Homo sapiens: one gene and its partners. The protein of the gene in region 4 purifies or fractionates together with the protein of the main gene of each other region. This does not show direct contact. Each region holds a gene or a part of one and is shown on either strand. Other genes may lie near its edges.

Region 1 (3,500 bases), on a different chromosome or scaffold from region 4:
CCATCCCTAACACAAGGGCTTTGATGTATGAATACTGCTTGAACTTCTAAAAGACAGTTTACTGACAATAGATGTTAAGTGATGCCACTAAATACTGACATGCCCAAGTTTCCAGACATAAATTATAAGTTGAATGCAAAAAAGAAATGAAACCCTTACATATGTGGAAAAGCAAAGCATGATTGTTAAAAGGTATTCACAAATTTTCCTTTTATAAGTTATTTTGGATGTATCTCATAAATAATAGTAATATTTGAGTGGAACACCTCTTGAGAGGCACTCCAAATATTTGAGAAAAGTGACTAAACTAAAAACAAAAACAGGTTTAATTATTGTTACTGTTTTCAACTGACTTACTGTTGACTGAAGGTTAGCAGACTGGTATATAAAGCTATGAAAACAAATGAAAGGTAAGGAATGAAGTAAAAACATTCCTCTAAGATTCTGATTTAAATTACTACTTATATTGGAACCTATAGCTAGATTTTTATCTATTAAAACTAATGCACATTACACTTTCATCACTAACAGCCCAACAAATTTTAACTAAAGGTTTATCAATTTTATTGTTCTAAGTCGACAGCAATAGAACAAAATATGCAAGGGAAGAAATTAAAAATTTTGTATAGATCTACATGCAGATACACATATTACATTTTTAAGGCTTTATTCACCAGAAGCACTGAAGGGAAACTACATCCAGCCACATTGACATTTTGATGATTTTTTTGGTTGAGAACTGACATTCATTTCCAGAGACAGTTAAACTGATGCTCTGTAAACAATTACCAGAGGCATTTTAAATGGGAGGAGCCCATCTGATTAGAATTAAACACTGGCAACATCATCACTTTAGTCAGGTAGGGGCCAAGATTCCAACTCAGTTTCTTTGTGCATTTAAACCCTTTAGTGTTTCATGCGGCACTTGGTGATGTAATGATTGCGGGTGCCTGATTAGAAACGTGCACAGTTAAAATATTTATGGAGAAAGTCAGCAGTAGAGGCACTGCAAAACTACGGAGATGGATTTTGGTCTTCCCACAGGGTTTATGAAAAAAGAGTATCTGTCACTGTAACAAATATGAACCAAATCATTATTATAAACTTTATGTGTAAAAGTGACTCTTGCATGTGGTGTACCTTATATGCGAGTTCCGAAGATGTCAAGTGTTTTGAACATAAGCAGTGCTTTTGGTTTTTGAAGAAATCCTGGCTAGCACCAACAGTTACTTTAGGGGTTGAGAGTTTGACAGAGCTTTAAGACTGTGCATATTACCCTTATTCTCTTCGTCGGTTTATTTTTCAGCTATGTATTTTACCCTGAATGTAATGAAGCAGATTATTCAAGTAAAATTGACAGAACAGAAAATCCAACTTCACCATCAAATGCTATAAAATTTTTAGATCTATTCACAGGCTACTTCATATGAAGCAATAACAATAAAGTAAATAGCAACAATCATAACACAATTGCTGAATTTTTCCATGTATTGCAACAAAAATCTTTGTACTTAGTACTTGCTCAGGGCAAAACCAGTCAGTAAATCATACCCAGGGACATCAGAAAAATAATGCTTTCCAGCCCTTTGTTCTATGACACCCTGTCTCCCATTGCTAATATGTTACTGACAATGTGTGCCTCAGGGATTGAGGTTCCTTTATGTATCCTGTATTTATCATTATTGCCATGAACCATTCCAGATTTTTCTCTACATTAATTTAACCTCTCACATAAAAAGAGACATGATATGCATGGTCGGCCCCTCAGCTAAGTGAATTTCAGCAGATTGATTAAATTTAGACACAGGTAGTTTAACCAATGCAGTATCTCCACAGCCCTATGCTGCCAATAGATACATGCGGAAGTTGTAGAGAGTGCATCCTTACTCTTGCTGTCCACTTGGCAATAGCGCGTGAGGTTAGGTGAGTGGGGAGGAGAATGCTCTTGTGCATCAGTGAATTGCTAAGTGGTGCCATCCATACACGGGACTAGCTGAGAAACCTGGTTTCAGTGATTATAATAAGTACAAAGTATTTTCTTTGAAACTGCTCTTATTGTGCGAAGGCCTAGAGGCTAGCAACTACAGAATCACCACTCAGCTGCTACCATTTTCTGAAAAAGTCCAGAGTTGGGATTAATAGTGTTCTTAAAATAAACCACGTGGCTGGGTGCTGTGGCTCACGCCTGTAATCCCAACACTTTGGAAGGCCGAGGCAGGTGGATCACGAGGTCAGAAGTTTGAGACCAGCCTGGACAACATGGTGAAACCCCATCTCTACTAAAAATACAAAAAATTAGCTGGGCATTGTGGTGCATGCCTGTAATCCCAGCTACTCGGGAGGCTGAGGCAGGAGAATCACTTGAACTTGGGAGGCGGAAGTTGCGGTGAGCGGAGGTTGTACCACTGCACCACAGCCTCAGTGACAATGGGAGACTCTGTCTCAAAAACAAAAACAAAAACCATGTCTACGTGAAACTCCCTAGCCCCAGTGCTAATAGAACCTCACCCAAAGGTTAATTGGCGTGCCCCTCTTTTAATTGTGTGATCTTGGGTAAGCATTTAATCTGTCTGAAACTCAGTTCCCTATGTTCTAAATGGTGGGACTGAACTAGCTGATCTGTATTCTTTCTATCAAGCTTGAAAATTAGATAATTCTACTTAAAATAAATGCAAAAACCTTTGACATATTTCTAGCAGCAAGACATCTAAAAATGCCCAAAGAAGCATGAAAAATGGGCAGTATGTTCTCCACAGGATCATGCCACTTCCAGCTTCTCACCTGCTGCTTCAGAACTTCCATTTCTGTTCTCATCTCCTCATGGCAGAATTCCACTCGAGACTTCCTCAAACAGTCCTCGGAAAATGAACACTTGATATTCAAGGCATCCTGAAGAGCCTACGTAATAAGATAAGTACACTGTTGATCTAAGATTTACCACATGGAATGAATTCTTTTATAATTGTTACAATCATCTCAAATGCACCCACAAATATGCATTTCATGTTTAACGCTGCTTACATAACCAAGTAACTTTCTTCTTTCTGATTTTCTCATATATGTATTTTTTTTTTCAGAATCTCTGTCTTTTTTCCATGATGATGCTTATGTTAGTCAATCCTCATTATTATTTAGGCTTTGATATTGGACCCTCCTCCTCCACCTAGCCAACTATGAAAACAAAATCTGTATCTATAGACTTTCTCCAGATTCTCTGCTTCAGTCAAATGTATACCCTTTCAATGATGCTTAGCCTTAGGGAAAATCAGAGGCAGCAAATATGCCCATCCCTTGGTACTGACTCCCAGAGATGATGAATCAGTAGGCTGGAGGGTATGGTTTGAGAATTTGCATTTCTCAGAAGCTGGTGCTGCTGGTCCCAGGTGATGTTTTGAGTAACATTCTACTATATAACTATGGCATGCCTCCAACAAGAGAGAGGGACATCCACAGAAATGAAAGCCCATGCAGATTCATTATCTGTTAGCTCTGTTGCGTTG
Region 2 (3,500 bases), on a different chromosome or scaffold from region 4:
AAATCCCAAATCCTAACAGTGCCAAAATGTGCTTTAAGCCTTTTCTCTTCACACCAGTGTCATAACTCAGAAGCCTATAGGCCAGGCAGACAGCAGCAATATGAGAGGCTGCTGAGGGAGACAGAAGTGGGAGGAGGATGAGGGAAGTACCGTGTGTGCTCTGTCTACAGAGGGCAGCCACTACTCAAGCTTCAGCTGGTTATCATGCTGGGGAAAGTGGACCCAGATTGCCATATTTTCCAAATTCAAGAACAGAAGGGAAAAAAATCTGTGTTTTCACTTGAAATTTCCTGATTTGTAAATGCTGGCAGCTTTTACATTTAAAAAACACTGATGATTAACGCTGATGATGAACATCACTGATTAACTTTCTACAATCCTTCCCATCCATTTATAAAAACAAATGTGAAGACACCAAGGTCTCGCTCTGATGCCCATGCTGGAGTGCAGTGGCACAATAGTGGCTTACTGGTAGGGTTTTGAGGGAGAGTGAAATTAGATACATGGCACAATTACGGCTCACTGCAGCCTCGACCTCCCAGGCTCAAGTGATCCTCCTGCCTTTGCCTCCCAAGTAGCTGGGACCACAGGTACATACCACCATGCCTGGCTAATTTTTTTTTTTTTTTAATTATTTGCAGAGATGGTCTCCCTGTGTTGCCCAGCCTGGAAAATGTATGTTCTAAAAATAGTACAGCACCGCGATGTCTTCAGCATGAAGCCACTGGAGGCAGCATGGCAGGCTCCAGTCACCCCAGCACTCACCAGTTCTTACAGGCCTTCCTCTTTTTCCCTTCCCCACAAGAAGCAGCCCGCAGGGAAGCTGGATCTGGCTTCTTCAAATCTTCTGGATCCAGCAGCTCATCTGAGTCAATGAGATCCTGGAGAGTGTTCAAAGCAATGAGTGATACAGTCGTGGTCTCTGCTAATGAAAAGCTAAAGTGACTGCAGGCTTCGAGAGGAAACTTGGAGTCCAGGGTAAAGAAGGTGTCCACCCTGTCCTCCTTTTGGTTGATCATCATGTTCAACCTGACCACATGCTCAAGAGGCCAACGGTGAGTTAAACTACATCCACAGAAGATGCACTAGGATGCAAAGGAATTAGAAACAAATTTACATGAGAAAAAGCTGTATGACTGGCCAGCAATGTGTAGAGAATATACACATGTTGGGGGTTGGGGGCAGGAGTGGGGAGAAGGGAGGGAACAGGCAGAACAGAGAAAGAGAGAAGTGTTTATGAAGAGTCACGTGAAAAAGGGAATAAAATATCTTTTACATAATCCCAGATAAAAATCAAATAATTATATATACCTTTATGTAATTCTTTGTAAATGTGTAGACACTTAGTCTGTAAACCCTATGAGAGCATGAACCTCACTTATTTTGCTCACTACTCTAACTTCAATAGTAGAGGTGTAGAAATGAAGAACTTTATTACAGACATGGCCAAAGATAGAAAATAGTGCTTTTTAAAGCATGGAACAGTCAGCAACTTGCCCAAAGGTGCCAATAAAACTATTTAAGCTGACAAAATCTTTTCAGGTTTACACATGCCCACAAGAGTTTTCAACATATCGTATGAAGTGAGAACAAGAAATTATGTGGGGAAAAAGAGATGCTAAAAAATTTAAAATGCCACCAACATGGCCAAGCGCAGTGGCTCACACCTGTAATCCCAGCACTTTGGGAGGCCGAGGCGGGCAGATCACTTGAGGTCAGGAGTTTTGCGACCAGTCTGGCCAACATGGTGAAACCCCGTCTCTGCTAAAAACGCAAAAATTGGCCAGGTGTGGTGGCACATGCCTGTAATCATAGCTACTTGGGAGGCTGAAACATGAGAATCGCTTGAACCCGGGAGCAGAGATTGCAGTAAGCCGAGATTGTGCCATTGCACTCCAGCTTGGGCAAGAGAGCGAGACTGTCTCCAAAAAAAAAGCCACCAACATGGAGTTTCCTTCTAAATCAAAGATGTGACAGGCATAGTCACAAATCTGGGCTTTAAATACGTTCACACCTACAAGTCCAGAAAGGTCACTATAGCTGTTCACACCCAAACTGGGGCCTGAAAGAAAGCAATCAAGTGACAATGCTGCCAGCTCACCATGCTGTCGTCCTCCATATCGTTGGCTGAGAGGGTCCACAGCTTGGCAGCAGCAGGGTCCACAGCAGGTTTCACTGAGTCCAAGCAATAAAAGAAAAAACTCCATAAACACAGTCAGAAACTATTAATTACAAACATACATAAATGCTTCCTGCTGTGTAGAAGAGAACACACTGGCCTGGGAGGCAGAAGATGTGGGTTCACAGTCCAGCTCTACCCCTCTGAGAGGTCTGACCTTGGGCCAACCACTTGCTGATAGTTACAGAAGTCACCATTTGCTAAGCTCTTGCTTTGCACCAGGCACCATATTAAGCACTTATATACATTATCTAACTTAATTCTGCTGACAACCTTATGAGGTAACTATCTGTCATCCTACTTTTACCGCTGAGGAAACAGGTTTAGACACTTAGGCTGGTTCCACAGGCTGCAAAGCCTGTCTGATGCTTTTAACCTCCATTCCATATTGCTTCCTCCTCGATACCTTAGTTTCCATTCTATAACATGAAGTTAAATTGTACTTCCTATGTTACTGCAGGTGTTTTGAGGATTAAATGAGAAATGTGTCAAAACCTTCAAAAATAGCAGAGCTTTAGCCTCATGTAAACCTGCTACATACAAGAAAATAGGCTCTAGAGCTGCTGGTGGCAAGGTAACACCATCAGTGGCAGACAAACCTCACACTTCCTGGTTCTCTGTCTAGTCAGGAGAATGCAAGGAAGAGGCAGAGAGCTGAGGCTCGGATGCAGTGTGGGCAAATCCTCGCAGGCCCTTGGGGTAAGAGTACCCTCTAGTGATCATTGTCACAGCTGGATGCTCATACCTTCCACAAGGCCAACTGTTCTAAGCTATTCCTACCCATTCTGGAACCATGAATCGAAAGGTTAGATTCCAAAGGATTTCTTGAAGATTTAGGTTAGACAGTCAAAACCGTACAAGTGGGAATGTACCAGTAAATATCTGTTAATGTCTGCATACCTCACAGCTGGGTCAATTCAGGCATTTAAAAATAGGGATAGGAAGGATGAGGATGGAGCTGTGTGTGTGTGTGTGTGTGCGTGCGCGTGCGTGCACGCGTGTGCTTGTACACAATTTTCTAGTCAGAAGAAATATAGTTTTATAAGTGTCTTAGCATCCTCAAAGTAAGAACAGCTGATTTTCCTGGCATGGGGAAAAAAGCACATGAGAACAGGAACAGGGCACTCTCATACACCATTACCACTACACTGTGAGGTCTTCTGAGGAGAAACGTTAATTCTGGGACCTGGAAGGACCTCATTAATTAAACTGTGTGACTCAGTCCTGTAAAATTAGGAGGCCTCGGTATCTTCTGGTGCAGAAGAAGGAGCTGAACTAGATAATACCTATGTATTATTTCAGTTTTGGATCCTAATATGCC
Region 3 (4,300 bases), on a different chromosome or scaffold from region 4:
TAAAATGAAGATAATAGGATATAACAGACTTGTGAGGAAGATTAAATGAGGTAATGAAAGGAAAGCATTTAGCACAGTGCTTTAAAAGCCTTAAACTTAGTAGACATGCACCGGTAGTCCCAGCTAGCTCAGAAGTTCAAGGGCATGGTGCACCATGATTGTGCCTGTGAACAGCCATTGCACTCACGCCCAGGCAACAGACAGACTCCACTTCTACAAAAAAATTTAAAAAATTAGCCAGGTGTGGTGGCCTGCTCCTGTAATCCCAGCTACTCCAGAGGCTGAGGTGGGAGGATACCGTGGAGCCCAGGAGTTTGAGGTTATAGTGGGCTACGATTGATTACACCACTGCATTCCAGCCTGGACAACAGAGTGAGACCCTGTCTCTTTAAATAATAATAATAATAATTAATTAATTAATTACGAGTGTTCAAACCCAAAGAATCAGAAGATGGGGGCACTCTCAGGACTCAGCTATATTCCTCTGGGGAGTGATATGCCCCATTTGCAAGGGGCATGATGTGGCACCTATTTTCCAAGCTCAGAACTGAGCCCTAAGAGGGCAGGGAACTTACCTGTATTGTTGGAACCATACTCCCAGCACTAAGCACAGTATGGGGCACATAGGAGGAACTGAATACATTTTTGTTGAATGAGTGACACTTTGAGGTAGTAAGGAGGAGCAGGCATACTTTCCTATGCGTCAGGCTGGCCCTGCTGCTGCTTCTTCTTCTTCTTTTTAAAAGGAGTCTCACTCTGTTGCCCAGGCTGAATGGAGTGCAGTGGCACAATCTCAGCTCACTGCAAGCTCCGCCTCCCGGGTTCACGCCATTCTCCTGTCTCAGCCTCCCAAGTAGCTGGGAATACAGGCGCCCGCCACCACACCCGGCTAATTTTTTGTATTTTTAGTAGAAACGGGGTTTCACCGTGTCAGCCAGGATGGTCTTGATCTCCTGACCTCATGATCCGCCCACCTCGGCCTCCCAGAGTGCTGGGATTACAGGCGTGAGCCACCGGGCCCGGCCGGCCCTGCTTCGTAAGAATGAAAAGGCAGTGGGCCGCCTGTAGTCCCAGCTACTCGGGAGGCTGAGGCAGGAGAATGGCGTGAAACCGGGAGACGGAGCTTGCAGTGAGCCGAGATCACGCCACTGCACTCCAGCCTGGGCCACAGAGAGAGACTCCGTCTCAAAAAAAAAAAAAAAAAAAAAAAAAAAAGGAAAAGAAAAGGCAGTGTAGGTGGTGTAGGTCAGTGGTCTAAGTTCATTCACAAAAAGCATATTAATGAAGCTAAGTCTTTTTGTTTGTTTAGAGAAGGGGTCTCACTCTGTCACCCATGACGGAGTGCAGTGACACAATCACTGCAGTCTCAAACTCCTGGGCTCAAGTGATCCTCCCACCTCAGCCTCTCCAGTAGCTGGGAGGCACAGGCCATCATACCTGGCTATTTTATTTTTTGTAGAGACGGGGTCTTGCTTTGTTGCCCAGGCTAGTCTCAAACTTCTGGACTCAAGTGATCCTTCCTCCTCCGCCTCCCAAAGTGCTGGGATTACAGGCGGGAGCCACCCTGCCTGGCCAAGAAGCTGAGTCTCAAGCTGGATAGAAGCTACTGACAGGGCTGGAAGAAGGGGGCCAACAGGAGGAATCATAACAGAGGGAACTCTGAGCAAAAGCAAGGAGGCAAGAACTTGAGTGAGTGAGAGAGTGTGTGAGTGTGTGAGAGTGTGTGTGTGTGTGTGTGTTTATGGGCTGTTTCTAATAAGCCTGACTTCTCCTGGAATCACTGAGACTTACCTGCTGCCAAGACATGTCCAAAGATGACCTCAGACACATCTTCCGGAGCCACAGTGGCCCTCTTCAAGACTTCTTTGATGACAGTGGAGCCCAGGTCCTGGACAGGAACAGCAGCTAAGGCACCATTGAAGGAACCTACAATAGAAAGGCGGAGAGCGTGGACATCACAAGCCTGCGGGTAATACGGGAACCACCTACGAGCAGGGGAGCCTCATGACCCTGTTTGGCAAGGCCACGCGAGGAGGCAGTGCCCTCTCCTCCCACACGTTCCTACACCTGCTGGTCTGAGCAAAGGTCAAGGTGGGTGCCACAACTCGCAGCAGCCGAGGGCTGGACAGGCGACCTCCAGAACGGCCTAGGGACGCCGCTGTAGCCCTTCTATTTCCCCAAATCCGAAGGACTGGATGCGACCCCATGCTTCCCAAACAAAAGGAACCGGCGGGTCAAGGGCGTTGAAAACCATGCGGCACGAAGGAGACGAAGTCACGACTTCTAGCCATTGTGTGACAGCCCGACCCCAGCCCAAAGCCGGGCTCAGACCACCTAGCAGTTCCGCCCCTGCCGCAGGCATTACCGATGGCGCCTCCCGGAGCCGGCCAATCAGGGGCCCCGGAGGAGAACACCTCCCTACGCCAACCAATGGGAGAGGCAGGCCACGCGATGGCTCTACCCCGGGAGCCAATCCAAGCACGAGGGACGGAGTGCGCACATCGGGAGAGGAGAGGGTGGGGCTGTAGCACCAGGTCAGGGAACGCGGGAGCCGCAGGGTTCCAGGGATCCCGCGGCTCCTCGCGGCTTGGCCTGACCGGCTTCCTCCACATACGCCCCTCTCCTACACAAGTCCGGCCCTCGGCGCTCCTGCCGAAGCAGCAGGCGCCTCGGACTCTGCGCGGCTCCCGCCGGCCACTCACCTATGATGGTCCGCGCCGCCGAGACGATGACCACAGGATCTGAGCCTGCATTCATCTTGCTTCTCCTGCCGCCGTCTGCCCTGCGCTGCCTGCAAGCTAGGCAAAGCTCCTCCTCGCAGCCCACAGGCCTGCCGCGGGCGGGACCTGAGGTAGCCCCGCCCCTCGCCCTCCACCTCCCCGCGCACCACCTCCCCGCGCATCCCACTGTGCGCAGGCGCAAGGCCGGAGCAGGGGCGGGCGGAGGCGCGCGGGGCGCGGGGCGCGGGGCGCGGGGCGGAAGTGAGGCCGGGGCGCGGGGCGCGGGGCGGAAGTGAGGCCGGGGTCTGGGCTTGCGGGCAGAACCGCGGACCTCGGACGCATTTACAGAGCGCCTGAAACCCCAGTGTTTCTGGACACCCCAATGTTGGAGTTCCCCGACTTGACGTCTTGGGCTTTTTTTTAAAAAATCTTAGGGTTTCTCGAAACAGTAAAGACTGGGGGGTGACAAAGACTTATCTCTCGTTCAGCTCAGGACTGGAATCCCACGGGCGAGAATCTCGAGTGCGAGCCCGGCCCGCGGCGGGTCTCAGCACAGCTCTGATGGGTCCTTTTGCTCTCGGCGGCTTCGGGAGGTCCTATGCGTTTCTCCTGGCGCCAGTCATTCGCTCGCGTGAGGGGCTTGCTAGGAGCGTCTCGGTGCGAGCCCCCTGCCTTCTAAGATCAACTCTGGCTGTGAACGGGTGAGGACGCCGGGAGCGTCTTAGCGTCACAAAAGTTCCTTTGGTTGACGTTTGGACAGTGAAAGGAGCATGTAACAAGTGGGGTCAGTTTTGTTTAAAACCCTTTCTGACTTCCCAGCCTCTTACTGGGCAAAGTTCATAATTTTTCTGAGCTTTCTAGGGTTTCCAGGCAAGCTTATGAGGGGCCACCGTTACAGCAACTTGTTGGGAACACCTGGATAGTGGAACAAGAAAGCTTTGTCACAAAGTCATGAAGGGGAAAACTGTTGACGGACCTGGAGAATCTTCCTGAAGAACTTTAAAGTTGATTGAAAGAATCATTAAATCCTGGAAACCTACATTAAGACTTTGCAGAGATATGCGGATGGGTCAGATAAATCAGAGAAGGTAAAGAGTGTAGGCCCCAGAGGTGGGGCAATAGAGAAGGAAAAAAATTGCATAACAGTGCAATTTCAGGAGAAATCTTTAGGGTCTGGAATAGTGGTGAAATCAGCTGTCTACTCTGCTAAGAACTCAGCAGCACACTGAAGTCTCTTCAGTTGTCTTCAATGTGTTTCCTGTCCCCTAACATATCTGAGTCCAAGGAATTCAAGGAATGCCTCCCGTGGCTTTTGCTCTATTCTATCCCATTTTCCCCTTACTCCCTGGCCACTTCTGAGTCTTTGTGGGCTTACTCTCACATCCCCTTAACATGTTCCCCAAGGCTCCTACTTTGCACCAGCTCCCTGGGTAATACCAGTCATTCCTACGGCATCAATCACCACCTGTATACTGACAAGTCTGAAATCCTTACATCTAACCTCGTCTCCTAAGCTGACTGACCCTCTTCATTTAAATTCTTACAAGCACATCAGGTCGGGCACCTTGGCTCACACCTGT
Region 4 (3,500 bases):
CAGTGGCTCACACTTGTAATCCCAGCACTTTGGGAGGCCAACGTGGGTGGATTGTGAAGTCAGGAGTTTGAGACCAGCCTGGCCAACACAGTGAAACTCTGTCTCTACTAAAAATACAAAAATTAGCTGGGCATGGTGGCGGGCACCTGTAATCCCAGCTACTCAGGAGGCTGAGGCGGGGGAATCGCTTAAACCTGGGAGGCAGAGGATGCAGTGAGCCGAGATCGTGCCACTGCACTACCGTCTGGGGGACAGAGCTAGACTCCGTCTCAAAAAATAAGTAAGTAAATAAATAAAAATAAAAAATAAATAAATAATGATAGTATTGGATTATAACACATAGAATGAAATAAGAATCCATGGGTCCATACTGATATAAATAAATGAATGGAAAACAAACAGGGGTGAAGGGCAAGTTCTTTCTTACAGTAGAAGGTGAACAAATATAGAAGAAATGATGGAATTGGAAAATCACCATTTGCAACCCCATAATAAAAATTGTTTTCAGCAAGAATCGTCAGTGGTGATAGAAGTATTTACTGCATGAAAGTTTGATGAGGAACAGGATAGTCTCAAAATACCTCCTACAAGATCTTATTAACCACAAAGTAAAAAACAGTAACTTTACAGTGAGGACTTACCTTAAAGCAAGTGATCAAAGTTAAATCACCACTGAGTAGGATATGACATCATGTTTGTGGTATTTTTGCCAAAAATTCATAATATGAATCTAACAGAAAACATCAGACAGACCCAAACTAAGGAACATTCTACAAAATGAATGGCCTGTTCTCCCAAAATGTCAACGTCCTGAAAGACAAGAATAACTGAAGAACTGTTCTCAGCTAAAGGAGATTAAAGACAAGACAACTAAAGGCAATGCATCATCCTTGACTGGATCCTAGACCGGAAAAAAAACCATTTTTGTTCTATTTTACTATGAGGACATTAGTCAAACAAGTGGCAAAATTTGAATAAGGGCTATAGATTGAGTAAGGGCTATAGATTCAGTAACAGTACTATATCAATGTTAATTTTTTAATTTTACTAAGTGTACCGTGCTTATGTAAAAGAATGCACTTGTTTTTAGGAACTTTATATTTAGAGGTTAGGGGCCTTATGTCTACAATTTACTCTCAAGGTTCAGAAAAACTTAATATGCCTACGTATGTACAGGCAGATAAAGAAGATGATAAAGTGAATCTGTTAAAATGTTAATATTTGAGAAATCTGGTTCAAAGGTACATGGGAATTCTTTGTACTATTTGTGCAACTTTTCTGTAAGTCTGAAAGTATTGTAAAACAAAAAGCTTTAAAACACACTGTTGGATGAGGGGGTAGAGATTCCTTTTACACCTCTTCCAGGGACAGGTACATACCTGGCCTTGTGTGAGGAAGTTGGCCATCAGCGCCCCCTTTACAGCATTGTTCATATCACAGTCTGAGAAGATGATGAGTGGAGATTTGCCTCCAAGTTCCAAGGTAACAGGTTTGATTCCTTTAGCTGACATCTCCATGATCTTGCAGAACAAGGACAAGGTATTCAGAACTTTAACACAAATTATATTGCATGCTAAGTCAACTAGGCCCTGAACCTACAAAATCATCTTGAACTGTTTGTGACCTGTAGCCTTATTCTTGTCAATATCCTTTGCCTTTTGGCTATTAAAATATTCTATTCCAGAAAACTGAAGAGAATCCACAGAGTTGCACTGACATTAGAAGAGGGAGTTCATTTAAAAAATATTGTCCCAGCCTGGGCAACATAGCAAGACCCTATCTCTACAGAAAAATAAGAAACTTAGCCAGGCACAGTGGCACATGACTGTAGTCTCAGCTTCTTAGGAGGCTGAAGCAGGAGGACTGCCTGAGCCCAGGAGTTGAAGGCTGCAGTAAGCTGTGACTACACCACTATAATCCAGCCTGGGCAACAGGGTGAGACCCTGTCTCAAAAAAATAAAAATAAAAAATATTGTCAATTCACAGGATTGTCATAGCCAGAAATTCTTTTGTGTTATTGTTACTGTGTTTAAGGCTGACAGAGTTCAGAACACAAATTAATGTCAAAATAATGGATCTGAAATAGCCTGAGTAAAAATCCTTTCTTCTATACAAGAAATTAAGTCACTAAACAATACAAGTGGCAGCCCAGGCCCCTGTCCACTAAGACACATCCTCTCCTTAGGCTGGGGCTGTTAATTTCCACCCCTACCTGGCCTAACACAAATCACCCCATGTGTACTCCCTTTCCCCCTTCATACTTTTACAGGAAATTTCACACCTCTGCCTAATAAAATCTCCTTCCCATTCCCAATTCAGGCTAGGTAAAATCAAAAGAGAAGCCTCCAAAATATACTCTGGGTAGGACCGGATTTGCCACATCCAAATGCCATGTGTGTTGACCAATACTGGTTTTGTCCTCACCTTCATGCCAGTGGGCACACTTCCAGTGAAGGAGACTTTGGCCACATCGGGATGCTGACACAGAAACTGGCCTGTGGCAGCCCCTCCCTGCACCACATTGAAGAGCCCAGGAGGTACACCAGCCTCACTGTAGATTTCAGCCAGTAGCAATGCAGAAACAGGTGTAAAGGGAGAAGGTTTAAAGACCATGGCATTACCTGCATAAACCCAAGACACAAACATAAAAAGACTTTCTAAGACCAGTGATCCCCTGAAAACAGGACTAGAGGACAATTCAAAAATGATTCCAATTGTTTCCTCTTCCCCAACCAAATCCTACATCAAAAATGTTATTAATAACCATATTAGTTTGTTTTCATGCTGCTGATAAAGACATACCCGAAACTGGGAACAGAAAGAGGCTTAATTGGATTTACAGTTCCACATGGCTAGGGAGGCCTCAGAATCATGGCGGGAGGTGAAAGTCACTTCTTACATTGGCGGCAGGAGAAAAATGAAGCAGCAGCAAAAGCGGAAACCCCTGATAAACCCATCAGATCTCATGAGACTTATTCACTATCAGGAGAATAGCATGAGAAAGACCAGCCCCCATGATTCAATTACCTCCCCCTGGGTCCCTCCCACAACACATGGGAATTCTGGGTGATACAATTCAAGTTGAGATTTGGGTGGGGACACAGCCAAACCATATCAATAAGTAAACAACTCTTGTCCTTTTCATCTTGGTTTCTCTCATTAAACAGATCCCAAACCCTACAGTTGCCCAGTCTCACATTTGCATATCTAGGCCTTTTCACATATATTATCTCATTTAACACTTTCAACAGCAGTATGAAGTAGGTATCATTAGCTCCATTTTATAAAAGTTGACATTGAAGACCAGAATGGTTCACTTGATGAGAGTCCCCAAAGCTAGTGACTTAATTCTGGTGACTATTAAAGCTAGTGACTATTTTTCCTCTTTCACAGCTGTATCTCAAAGAGAAATAGGCTAAAACAAGAACATGCAATGGCAACAGGACAAAAGCTGCATTTCAATATAATGTCCTAACAGTAATGCTTTCTAACATTACAAT
Region 5 (3,500 bases), on a different chromosome or scaffold from region 4:
TTCTTTTACTTCCTGACATTTAGTTTATATCAATTATAAGTAATGTTGTAATGAACATCCTTTGTACAGAAAGCTTTATTTCCTTAGGAGTAAATTCCTAGAGACAGAATTACTGAGACAAAGTATATGAATATCTACTTTCCAAAAGGAAGCCTTTTTATGACTATAAATTACATATTTTATGTTTAAAAGTACCAAATAAAGTATAAAAAGGAAAATAAAAACTGCCTAATAATTGCACCCATCAGAGGTAACAGTCAATACTTTGGTGAATACTCTTTCGAAATATCTAAGTGTTATGTGCTCACTTGTAAATTCTCTCTTTTTTTTTTTTTTTTGAGATAGAGTCTTACTCTGTTGCCCAGGCTGGAGTGCAATGGTGTGATCTCGGCTCACTGCAACCTCTGCCTCCTGGGTTCAAGAGATTCTCCTGCCTCAGCCTCCTGAGTAGCTGGGATTACAGGCATGTGCCACCACACTCAACTAATTTTTGTATTTTTAGTAGAGATGGGGTTTCACCATGTTGGCCAGGCTGGTCTCAAACTCCTGACCTCAGATGATCTGCCCACCTTGGCCTCCCAAAGTGCTGGGATAATAGGTGTGAGCCACAGTCCCTGGCTTCATTTGTAACTTCTTTAAGTCAGAGCATTTGTCATATACTATTAATATTCAAGCATATGTAGTGCAGATCTGTAAAGACAGAATACAGCTTAGTGGATAAAAACACAAAGTCTGTGTGGTCAGATGTGGGTTCAACACTAATGTGACCCTGGGCAAATTACTTAACATTCCTCAGCCTTAATTTTCTCATCTGTTCCATGGAGTAGTTACAGAACCTACCCCATAAGGCTGTGAGGATTAAGAATAAGAGAATGCAAAGGAGGCTCTGGAGTGCGAGTGCTCAGCCCATGTTAGCATGCATACTTATTTTTAAAGGTGTATGTTGTCCATGGATGCGTAACAGATTTCCTCAGTGCTTCTTATTGGACATTTATGCTGTTTCTAACTTTCAGCCACTCCAAATGATGTTGGGACACACATCCTTTTATGGGCATGTGCATGTCTGTCCAATTACCTCTTTAGGTTGAATTTCTAAGAGTAGATATAGTGGGTCAAAAAGCGTGTATTTAAAATTTTGATATGACACCAAACTGTGCTGAAATATTTTACCAGCTGACTCTGACCAACAAAATATGATTTCCCGAAATCTCTATCAATAGTAGATAATATAAATCTTTAAGACTCCTGAAATCTGATTAACAAAACCAGGTCCCCATATTCATTTCTTGGGTCTGCAGCAAGGCTGGCCACCTTTTCTTACATTTCCTGACCATTTTTCTCTTCTGCAGCCCCCTGTCCTTTGGCTCCTTTTTTCTCGAGTTTGGACTCATCTTTTTCCCATATGAGTTCTCTTTATAGATTAAGGATGTTAACTCAATGTCTAACATCTGTATATATGCTATAACCATTTTCTCCCAGTCCTGTATGTTATTTATATTGTTTTTAATTTTTTGCATCCCAATTTCTAAAGTTTTGATAGTTTTTCCTTTTTCATCATTTCAAAAACCCTCTGAATTCTAACTAATTATTATTATTATCATTTTTTGAGACGGAGTCTTACTCTGTCGCCCAGGCTGGAGTACAGCAGCGCAATCTCGGCTCACTGCAACCTCCACCTCCCAGGTTCAAGCTATTCTCCTGCCTCAGCCTCCCAAGTAGCTGGGACTACAGGCGCCCGCCACCAAGCCCAGCTAATTTTTGTATTTTTCATAGAGACGGGGTTTCACCATATTGGCCAGGCTGGTCTCAAACTCCTGACCTTGTGATCTGCCCACCTCGGCCTCCCAAAGTGCTGGGATTACAGGTGTGAGCCACCGCGCCTGGCCCAAATTCTAACTAATTATTAAAACTGGGAACAGAAATCTTAACATGCTGACATGACAGGCGCTTGACCTGTGAAATGAGAAAAAAGGAAAAGGGGAATCTGTGCATAAATTCAGCATAATCACATTTTTGAAAAACCACACTGCTATTCCCCACTAAAACAAGCCAATCAACCTCATACTATTATAAAACACCCAAAACATTCCTAGAGCAAATATATAAGCTATTGTCAGTAGGCTGGTGTGTATCTGTCCAGATACAGCACACTCCTTAAAACAGTTATAACTTCTATAGGGGGAGTACTTTCACATTTACCCTGATCACTTTTTTATCTTCTTTTTGCAACAAACACAACTATTATAAAGTAGTTCTTTATAATAAATACTTTTCAGAACAACTTTATACAAGTGTTTCAATGAAGTCACCAAGAATTATGATAAAAATGGCTCTTCCTAAGATTTGCTAGTGGTACCAGAAGCCAGAAAGATGGCTGGGGAAGGGAACTTTGGTTACAATGAGACAAATCTAAGGCAAGTTATGCTGCCCCCTAGTGGGTCAGATGTCACTGACTCTTCAATGCAAACTTAAACACAATCCAGTCCCTTCCAATACTGTTTTCTTGTGATTTTTTTTGAGTTATGCTCATGCCAATTTTAGTGTATGATACAAACATATCTCACAATGGAAGAAACAATCAGAAATTTTCTGGAGGTTTTCTACCAAACAACAGTCTTTGCTGCTACAAGGAACAGAAGACAGTGTTTTAACATTCATTATCAAATAACCAGACTTGGGCCCTACTAGTGATAGGATAAATTTAAATGGATTTCATTATAAAAAGACTCCACAGGCACTACTGTTACCAATGAGACCAACATACATAAATGAGAATTCAGTGGATGCAATTTTTTTCTGTCTGCTGAGCCTACTTTATATCTGCATTCAGAATTAACGTGGTTTCCTTTGCGGGCTAGGTCTGCTCTCTTAGGAATGGGATAAGATCTTCCCTCTCAGCCATTCTTTCATGAATACATATATTAATAATACTGAGATCTACTATTGGAAACTTTTCTCTGGATTGCTTTCACATTTCTGTGGGAAGAGGGCATGCCAGTCTACAAATGGATCACCAGGTTCTCAAATGTTACTTGCATGGAATCCAGCCCTAGTCCACGGTGTGAGGTGCTCAGAAGAGCAAAGAAAGCACCGTTCTATTTCCAAGTCGTGTAGCCTTGGCTAAATGACTTAACCTGTAAGTCTTGGTTTCCTCTTATCTAAGAAAGGGTAACATCTGCCTTGCTCAATGCATAGATATTGTGTTGCTCTATTGTGAGGTCTTAAAAGAGAGTTCTGGAAAGTGTAAACACTACAGAAATGTTAAGTAACATCAACGTCTCACATACCCGTGTATCTGACCAGTGTTCGTCCCGTTGATATTTCCCAAAGTTTAGCTACAGAGTCTTTTCCACTTGAGAGAATGTATTTAGAATTTTTGGAAAAAATGGCAGAACAAACTTCAGCACCGTCATGTGCTTTCTCAAAAGTTGTGATGCATCGATTTGAAACACCATCCCATAATTTGATGCAGCCGTCCTTGCTTCCAGTTACGTACATAT
Region 6 (3,500 bases), on a different chromosome or scaffold from region 4:
AGAAACAGCTAAAACTCGACCCTGGTGATATGGGATATCAACAAAGGAACTGAATCTTGAGTGGTCCCTCTGGTGGCCTTGAAGGCTGGGAGGTGACCACTATGTGACAAGGACCTGGCTTGAGGCCACATGACACATGACAGGCTGGCAGCAGGGCTGTACTTTGACTCAGATTCTCCTGCTGGAAGCTCCGCCAGGCGGGTCTGGAGCCCAGCTCCATGGGGCCAGAGCAGAAATGCTCATCCGCAGGACAGAGGGCGGCAGCAGGGGGAAACTGTGCCCAGGACTTTGCAGGGAGCCTGTATCTTGTCAGGAAGGCCCTGGTTCAGAACCAGCTGAGGGTTTGCTGGGCCTCTCCTGGGAACAGGCCCCATGCTGGGCAATTCCCAATGTCTCCCCCTCTTGCCATCTCACATAACAAACCCAGCCATGCCAGGGAAGGCTCTGGAGACTCAATGAGCACACAGCGCTGGCCCTAAGGGCCGCGGGGACGCGCTGGAACTCTGCTCGCCAGCATCCGGACCTCGCACCTTTTCCGCGCTTCTGTCCTCCAGGCGGGGCTGCCTCTGCTCCCTCCTTGCTTGCTGGCCCTTGTGGGAGAGTTTGTGGCTTCTACCATGCACATGGCCACACATGCTGGGCATGCAACAAGCCGAAGGGGTTTTAAAAATAACTGTGGTACAGTGGCTCACACCCGTAATCCCAGCAGTTTGGGAGGCCAAGGCGGGTGAATCACTTGAGGTTAGGAGTTTGAGACCAGCCTGGCCAATGTGGTAAAACCCTGTCTCTATCAAAAATAAAAAAAAATTAGCCAGCTGTGTTGGCGGGTGCCCGTAATCCCAGCTACTCCAGAGGCTGAGGCAGGAGAATCGCTTGAACATAGGAGGCAGAGGTTGCAGCGAGCTGAGATCACACCGTTGCACTCCAGCCTGGGAGACAGAGTGTGACTCCCTGTCTAAATAAATAAATAAATGCATAAATAAAAATAAAAATAACTGGCTCTTGTCCGCTGCGGCTGAGCTGAGGACCCCCAGTCCCCGAGTACTGAGACGGACCCTGACTCCGCTTTCGTCAGTGCTGGTTTCACTGACAAACCCACCTGGCCTCTCTGAGTCTTGGTTGCCTCAGCCATAAGGTGGAGACGCCCCCTAACCAGGACAGCGGTGGCTTTATGGAACCGGAACAGGGACAGCCATGGGGCTATGGCTGCAGCCTGGGACCTGATTGAACTGTGTGCTTTCTTTCCTGTACAGATGCTCCCTGACTTAGGACAGGGGTATGTCCCAATAATCCCATCGTGAGTTGTGAATATCATAAATCACAAATGCATTTAATAGGAGCGAACATCACAGCTTAACCTGGCCTGTCTTAAGCGTGCTCAGGAACTCACAGCAGCCCACATTCTGGTGAGATCGCCGAAGGCAAAGGCTATCGGATATGAGGTGTTGGGTATCTCATGTAACTTCGGTTTTCAGTTTGCCTGCGTCATTGCAGGCTAGCTGGTAGCTGTGGCTGGCGCCCAGCGTCACAGGACAGCAAGTGCCCAAGTGGCCGGCCTCGGAAAGATCAGCATTCCAAGCACGGTTTCTACTGAACACACACCATGGTGAATCAGGGGCCTGTATTCTGATGCTTTGACATTTGGGTGCCTTGCTGGCCCTCGAGAAATGGCCCCTCCCAGAGACAGCCAACAGCTCGCCTGCAAACATCTTTCACGTGCAAATCAACTAGTCTCGAGCCCCTACACTCTGGGGCACCATCCACCGGCCCCCATTACCCTAGGGCCAGGCACCCGATGAGGGGCAGCCCCCATGCCAGGGCTGGCTGAGATGGTCCAGCCGGCCAACCCTGAGCCCACTCCCCGCTACACCCATGCCTTCACAAGGGACCCCAGCGAAGGCCCTGCCCAGAGCACACCTCCTGACCCAGCCATGCTTCCCATGTGGCGAGCTGCCAGTTCCTGGGAACTGTGACACGCATCTTTCCAGTGGCGGTCGCCACTGCTCTGTTGGTGCCGCTGAACACTGGGCTTCTGCTAACACACTACGCTTGACTTCAGCGCTGCGCTCCCAGCTCTGCACCAACTAACTCATGTCACCCCTGAGACGCCCACATCAGGCACACCGGGCAGTGGGTGGAGGGGCTCCCCTCGTTACCGAGCCTCTGCGCCCCATGTCTGTGTGGACCTGCCTTGCCAGAGTTCAGGTCCTCAGGCAGAAGAAAGATGGACATCAGGCCGGGGGTCAGCCCTGAAGGGGGGACGCTCCCGAGGAGGCAGGGGCAGGGGGCCACAGAAGCTCCACTGGCCACGCCCAGCACTCCCCGCACCCAGTACTCCCTGAGCCCAGCACTCCCCGCAACTGAGCACTCCCCAGGACTGAGCACTCCCCGTGCCCAGTACTCCCCATGCCGAGTACTCCCCAGACTGAGCACTCCCCACACCCAGTACTCCCTGGGACCGAGCACTCCCCCCACCCAGCACTCCCCAAGCCCAAGCACTCCCTGAGCTCAGTACTCCCCATGCCCAGTGCTCCCTGGGACCGAGCACTCCTCACACCCAGCACTCCCGGCACCCAGCACTCCCTGTGCCCAAGCACTCCCTGAGTCCAGCACTCCCCGGGACGCAGCACTCCCTGAACCCAGCACTCCTGATGCCCCAAGCACTCCCTGAGCCGAGCACTCCCCGAGCCCAGCACTCCCCCTGCCCTGCGCTTCTTGCTCCCACCACTCCCTGGGACTGAGCACTCCCTGTGCCCAGCACTCCCCGGGATCGACCATTGCCCACGCCCAGCACTCCCTACACCCAGCACTCACTTCCTGAGTCTCTCTGGGGAGGTGAAGCCCATTTCTCCGGCCCAGCTTGATTAGCCGCTCCAGGTACCGCGCAGCCTCGGGCCTCAGTGAGTCCTTCTGAACTTTCTCCTGGAATAAAAACATCAAAGCATGTAGGACGTGGGCCAGTGCAGCCGCTCCAAAGAGCAGTTTGGCAGTTTCTTAAAAACCTGATCATCCGGCCCCCGTGTGACTTGGCAACTGCACTCCTGGGCATTTATCTCAGAGAAATGACGACCTGTCTCTACATAAAACCTGTGCAAACGTTCGCTTTGTTTGGAAGAGCCCCACACTGACATCAGTCCAGAGCTCCTTCACCAGTGCGATGGCTGAATGGGAATTAGATTGCTGGTGGTCTCCAGGTCGGTATCGGGGTGTAGATGACACCATAGTTTTGCAAAACGTCATCACTGGGGACCTGGGCAAAGTTGGCAAAGGCATTCGATTCTTTCCTGCACCTGCATGGGAACCTCTCATTGTCTCAACAGAAACTCTGGAAAGTGGAGGTGGGAGGATTGCGTGGGCCCAGGAGTTCGAGACAAGCGTGGGCAACGTTGTGAGACCCTGTCTGTATTTAAATAAAAAGAAATAACAATCCACGGCTATCATGGGTCACCCTGATCTGGATTTACCAAAGCACTAGGGCTGCATGATCCTGAGACTGTGGG
Region 7 (3,500 bases), on a different chromosome or scaffold from region 4:
AGACATACCTCAGCTTCCTGGACCCCACACGCTCTTGGTTTTCCTCCTTGCACTGTCTTTTGCTGGCAGGTCTTGTGTGGTCCATTATTAAGTAGTATTGTTCTTCCTGGTTCTCTGAGAGGCGAGACCTTCCAAAATTTTCATCTCCAGGACCTGTCCAGTGCTGATGTCTCCACTTGCCTGTCTCCCAGGTCCAAAGTGGGACTTAACCTTGTATCCTCCAATGACCTCTCGCTGCCCGCTCCTACTGTGCCCTTTGGTTCAGTGACTCATACCCGCATCCACCCTCCCGGGTTCCCAGACCAAAATAAAAAAGCATGGGAGTCCGTGTGGCTCCCTCTTCCCTCCACCCCTGTATCTGGATGGTTACCAAGTCATGACTGTTCTGTCTCTGATAATGCCCCCTGATCTCCATTCTTACCACCACTCTCCCAGGTAAATGCTCCATCTTCTCTGTCTTGGGTTGCATTTGGTCCCACCTGGTCTTTCAGTTAACTCCCTTCAGTCCACCCAATGCAGTCTTTTCTCTGCAGCCAAATTTTTTTCTATAGTTCAGGTCTGATGATACCACTTTCCATTTTCAAACTCCTTAAATTGGCCTCGGAGACCTGTGATGGCCAATCTTCCCCACCCCTGTGGGTCAGGTTCCTCTGGTGTGGGCCTATCTCTTAGTGCAAGGCTCCCTGTAGACTGTCCTGGGGCTGCCTGTCTAATTGTCTTCTCATTGAACCAGGTAGGCAGGCAGGAACCACTCATCTAGTCTGGGGGTGACTGGGGGGTGCAAAGAGTTTTGTTACAGGATGTATTTAACACTTTCATTGTCTGGCTCAAAATTCTCTTTGAAGAAACTGCCTTTGTTTAATTCTGTTTATTTATTTAGAACTTACCTAGAATTGATTTGCACTTGCAAAAATGCTGCTGTTTTAGAGTTTGCTTTCTAGGCTGGTTGCTTGCTCTGTCACCTTAGCTAAAAAGTAGGTACTGGAGCGCCTTTTCTCTTCTCTTCTCTTCTTTCTTTCTTCTTCTTTTTTTTTTTTTTTTTTTTTTTTTAGTAGAGTCTAGCTTTGTCGCCCAGGCTTAAGTGCAGTGGCACGATCCCGGCTCACTGCATCCTCTGCCTCCCAGGTTCAAGTGATTCTCCTGCCTCAGCCTCCCGAGTAGCTGGGATGACAGGCGCCCACCACCACACCCAGCTAATTTTTGTATTTTTAGTAGAGGCGAGGTTTCACCATGTTGGCCAGGCTGGTCTTGAACTCCTGACCTCAAGTGATCCACCCTCTTGAGCCTCCCAAAGTGCTGGGATTACAGGCGTGAGCCACCACACCTGGCCTGTAGCGCCATTTCTGTTTCTGGTTGCTCTATAAAGGGAGCTCTGTGCGTAGAGTAGGTGTGTCAGTAAGAATGACTTGACCTAGTTGGCACCAACAAAGAAAAATAGCAAACAAGTTAGGTTAGGTTTTTTTGATGATTGAAGAACATCTTGTATGTTAACAGGCAGTTTATAAAATGAGAAATGGAATGATTTTTAAAAACAGCATTCAGCTTTATAAATCCAGGAAATGCAGATAGAAAAGAGATAATTTTTTTACCTTTAAATTATAAAAAAGTTTGATAATTAACAGTTGTGAAAATCAATATTGTAAGGGTAAAGTACGTTGCCAGTGGACATGTTTTTGAACAGCAGTTTGTCAGTTGGTGTTTATGTAATTACATTTGCTCTCTCTGATTTATTACTCCTATTTTTAAGAATCTAGCTCAAGGAAATACCCATAATATGGGAAAAAAATCAGTATTCCTGAAGAGGTTCCTTGTAGCATTATTTTTCATAGCAAAATTGTGGAAAAACCTAACTGTCCAAAATATAGAGAACAATATTAGTGAATTATTCACTCAGAATAGTATGTAGCCAGAAATGATGTTTAGGAAATAGAGCTATGCATAATTAATATGGAATGATAGGGCAGGGTGCAGTGGCTCAAGCCTGTAATCCTAGCACTTTGAGAGGCCAAGGTGGGTGAATCACCTAAGGTCAGGAGTTCAAGACCAGCCTGGTCAACATGGCATAACCTCGTCTCCACTAAAAATACAAATATTAGGTGGGCATGGTGGGGTGCACCTGTAATCCCAGCTATTCGGGAGAGTGAGGCAGAAGAATCACTTGAACGTGGGAGGCAGAGGTTGCGGTGAGCTGAGATAACGCTGCTGCACTCCAGTCTCGGCGACAGAGCAAGACTCTGTCTCAAAAAAAAAAAAAAGACAGCCAAGAGATACCAACTAAAAAAGTAAGATGGAAAACAAAGTCAACATGATTCTATGTGTGTGTTAACATTAGAAAGGTGTGTATACTATAGATTTATAAAAGCCTTCTGGAAATTATGCAGGACAGGAATAGGACTAAGTAAGTTGGAGACAAGAAACTTTTGAAACATTTTTATATTGTCTGTAGTGATTGAGGTTATTTTGTTTTTAACTTTTTGCTATAATAAAATCTTAAAAGATGGTTATAAAGACTATTGTAATCCATAAAAATATTTATGATATGTCAAGCAAAAAAGAACGAGATGATGTAAAATGGCATATAGTTCATTTGTAGCTACAAGACAAATATGAGAATAGAGAAAAAAGGGGAACTATTAATTGGTTGTTTTAAAGTGTTGGGATTAGGCTGGACTCGGTGGCTCACGCCTAATAATCCTAGCATTAAATTTAGGAAGCTGAGGCGAGAGGATCCCTTGAGCCCAGTGGGTCAAGGCTGCAGTGAGCCGTGATCATGCCACTGTACTCCAGTCTGGGCAACGGGAAGACTCTGTAAAAGCGAATGATTAAAAATAAGTGTTGGGATTATATTTTCTTTGGATTTCTCTATTTTCTATTTAAAGATTGCCCTATCAGAATCCCATCTTCATTTTTTTGTTCTTTCTGACATAGGTTTTCAAGGGACATGAGTGACCCGAGGATGGTGTTGAGCCTCTCTTTGTAAGGGTTGTTTCTTTGTTACTCACGTACTGGTAATTATCTTACCATCTCTGCAGAGCCCACCCACCTTTGGGTTCCTGTTGGACATCGATGGAGTGCTTGTGCGGGGCCACAGAGTGATCCCTGCTGCTCTGAAAGCCTTCCGAAGGCTGGTGAACTCCCAGGGGCAGCTGCGGGTGCCCGTGGTTTTTGTTACAAATGCTGGGAACATCTTACAACACAGCAAAGCCCAGGAGCTGTCAGCCCTGCTGGGGTGCGAGGTGAGAAGGCAGCCAGAGGCATGGAAGCCCAAGGACCTGGTTCCTAATGGAGCCGCTGCCCCAGCTCCAAGTCCCTTTCCCCTGGGTTGGGATATGGAATCACCTAGTCCTAGGTCATGGCCACAGCTGAACACAGAAATCCTGCCTGTGTATTTGGCAGTTGTAGATTATGTCCTTGTATCTGTTTCTTTTCTTCTGGGCATTGGGGGTGTGAGTCCCTGGAAAGCAAAGGTCACACACATGTCTAGAACTTGCATAGCAGGA

The links.
Region 1: the proteins of ALDH9A1 (region 4) and TNIP3 purify together in Homo sapiens (co-immunoprecipitation; one large-scale study listed by IntAct). This does not show direct contact.
Region 2: the proteins of ALDH9A1 (region 4) and CIAPIN1 fractionate together in Homo sapiens (co-fractionation; one large-scale study listed by BioGRID). This does not show direct contact.
Region 3: the proteins of ALDH9A1 (region 4) and ACAT2 fractionate together in Homo sapiens (co-fractionation; one large-scale study listed by BioGRID). This does not show direct contact.
Region 5: the proteins of ALDH9A1 (region 4) and CSTF1 purify together in Homo sapiens (affinity purification with mass spectrometry, with the first as the bait; one large-scale study listed by BioGRID). This does not show direct contact.
Region 6: the proteins of ALDH9A1 (region 4) and THOP1 fractionate together in Homo sapiens (co-fractionation; one large-scale study listed by BioGRID). This does not show direct contact.
Region 7: the proteins of ALDH9A1 (region 4) and HDHD5 purify together in Homo sapiens (affinity purification with mass spectrometry, with the first as the bait; one large-scale study listed by BioGRID). This does not show direct contact.

The regions. Positions count from the first base shown.
Region 1 is NC_000004.12:121,147,322-121,150,821, forward strand, and holds part of TNIP3 (TNFAIP3-interacting protein 3), read right to left. Parts: intron 2,899-3,500; coding exon 2,782-2,898; intron 1-2,781. UniProt on the Homo sapiens protein: Binds to zinc finger protein TNFAIP3 and inhibits NF-kappa-B activation induced by tumor necrosis factor, Toll-like receptor 4 (TLR4), interleukin-1 and 12-O-tetradecanoylphorbol-13-acetate.
Region 2 is NC_000016.10:57,430,386-57,433,885, forward strand, and holds part of CIAPIN1 (anamorsin), read right to left. Parts: intron 2,176-3,500; coding exon 2,102-2,175; intron 882-2,101; coding exon 766-881; intron 1-765. UniProt on the Homo sapiens protein: Component of the cytosolic iron-sulfur (Fe-S) protein assembly (CIA) machinery required for the maturation of extramitochondrial Fe-S proteins.
Region 3 is NC_000006.12:159,760,545-159,764,844, reverse strand, and holds the start of ACAT2 (acetyl-CoA acetyltransferase, cytosolic), read right to left. Parts: upstream 2,801-4,300; 5' UTR 2,758-2,800; coding exon 2,703-2,757; exon of another isoform or gene 2,513-2,702; intron 2,367-2,512; exon of another isoform or gene 2,208-2,366; coding exon of another isoform or gene 2,066-2,207; intron 1,927-2,065; coding exon 1,792-1,926; intron 1-1,791. UniProt on the Homo sapiens protein: Involved in the biosynthetic pathway of cholesterol.
Region 4 is NC_000001.11:165,678,063-165,681,562, forward strand, and holds part of ALDH9A1 (4-trimethylaminobutyraldehyde dehydrogenase isoform 1 precursor), read right to left. Parts: intron 2,622-3,500; coding exon 2,425-2,621; intron 1,521-2,424; coding exon 1,380-1,520; intron 1-1,379. UniProt on the Homo sapiens protein: Converts gamma-trimethylaminobutyraldehyde into gamma-butyrobetaine with high efficiency (in vitro). Can catalyze the irreversible oxidation of a broad range of aldehydes to the corresponding acids in an NAD-dependent reaction, but with low efficiency.
Region 5 is NC_000020.11:56,399,145-56,402,644, reverse strand, and holds part of CSTF1 (cleavage stimulation factor subunit 1), read right to left. Parts: coding exon 3,288-3,500; intron 1-3,287. UniProt on the Homo sapiens protein: One of the multiple factors required for polyadenylation and 3'-end cleavage of mammalian pre-mRNAs. May be responsible for the interaction of CSTF with other factors to form a stable complex on the pre-mRNA.
Region 6 is NC_000019.10:2,795,503-2,799,002, reverse strand, and holds part of THOP1 (thimet oligopeptidase), read right to left. Parts: intron 2,923-3,500; coding exon 2,815-2,922; intron 1-2,814. UniProt on the Homo sapiens protein: Involved in the metabolism of neuropeptides under 20 amino acid residues long. Involved in cytoplasmic peptide degradation. Able to degrade the amyloid-beta precursor protein and generate amyloidogenic fragments.
Region 7 is NC_000022.11:17,149,278-17,152,777, reverse strand, and holds part of HDHD5 (haloacid dehalogenase-like hydrolase domain-containing 5 isoform 2 precursor), read left to right. Parts: intron 1-3,032; coding exon 3,033-3,236; intron 3,237-3,500.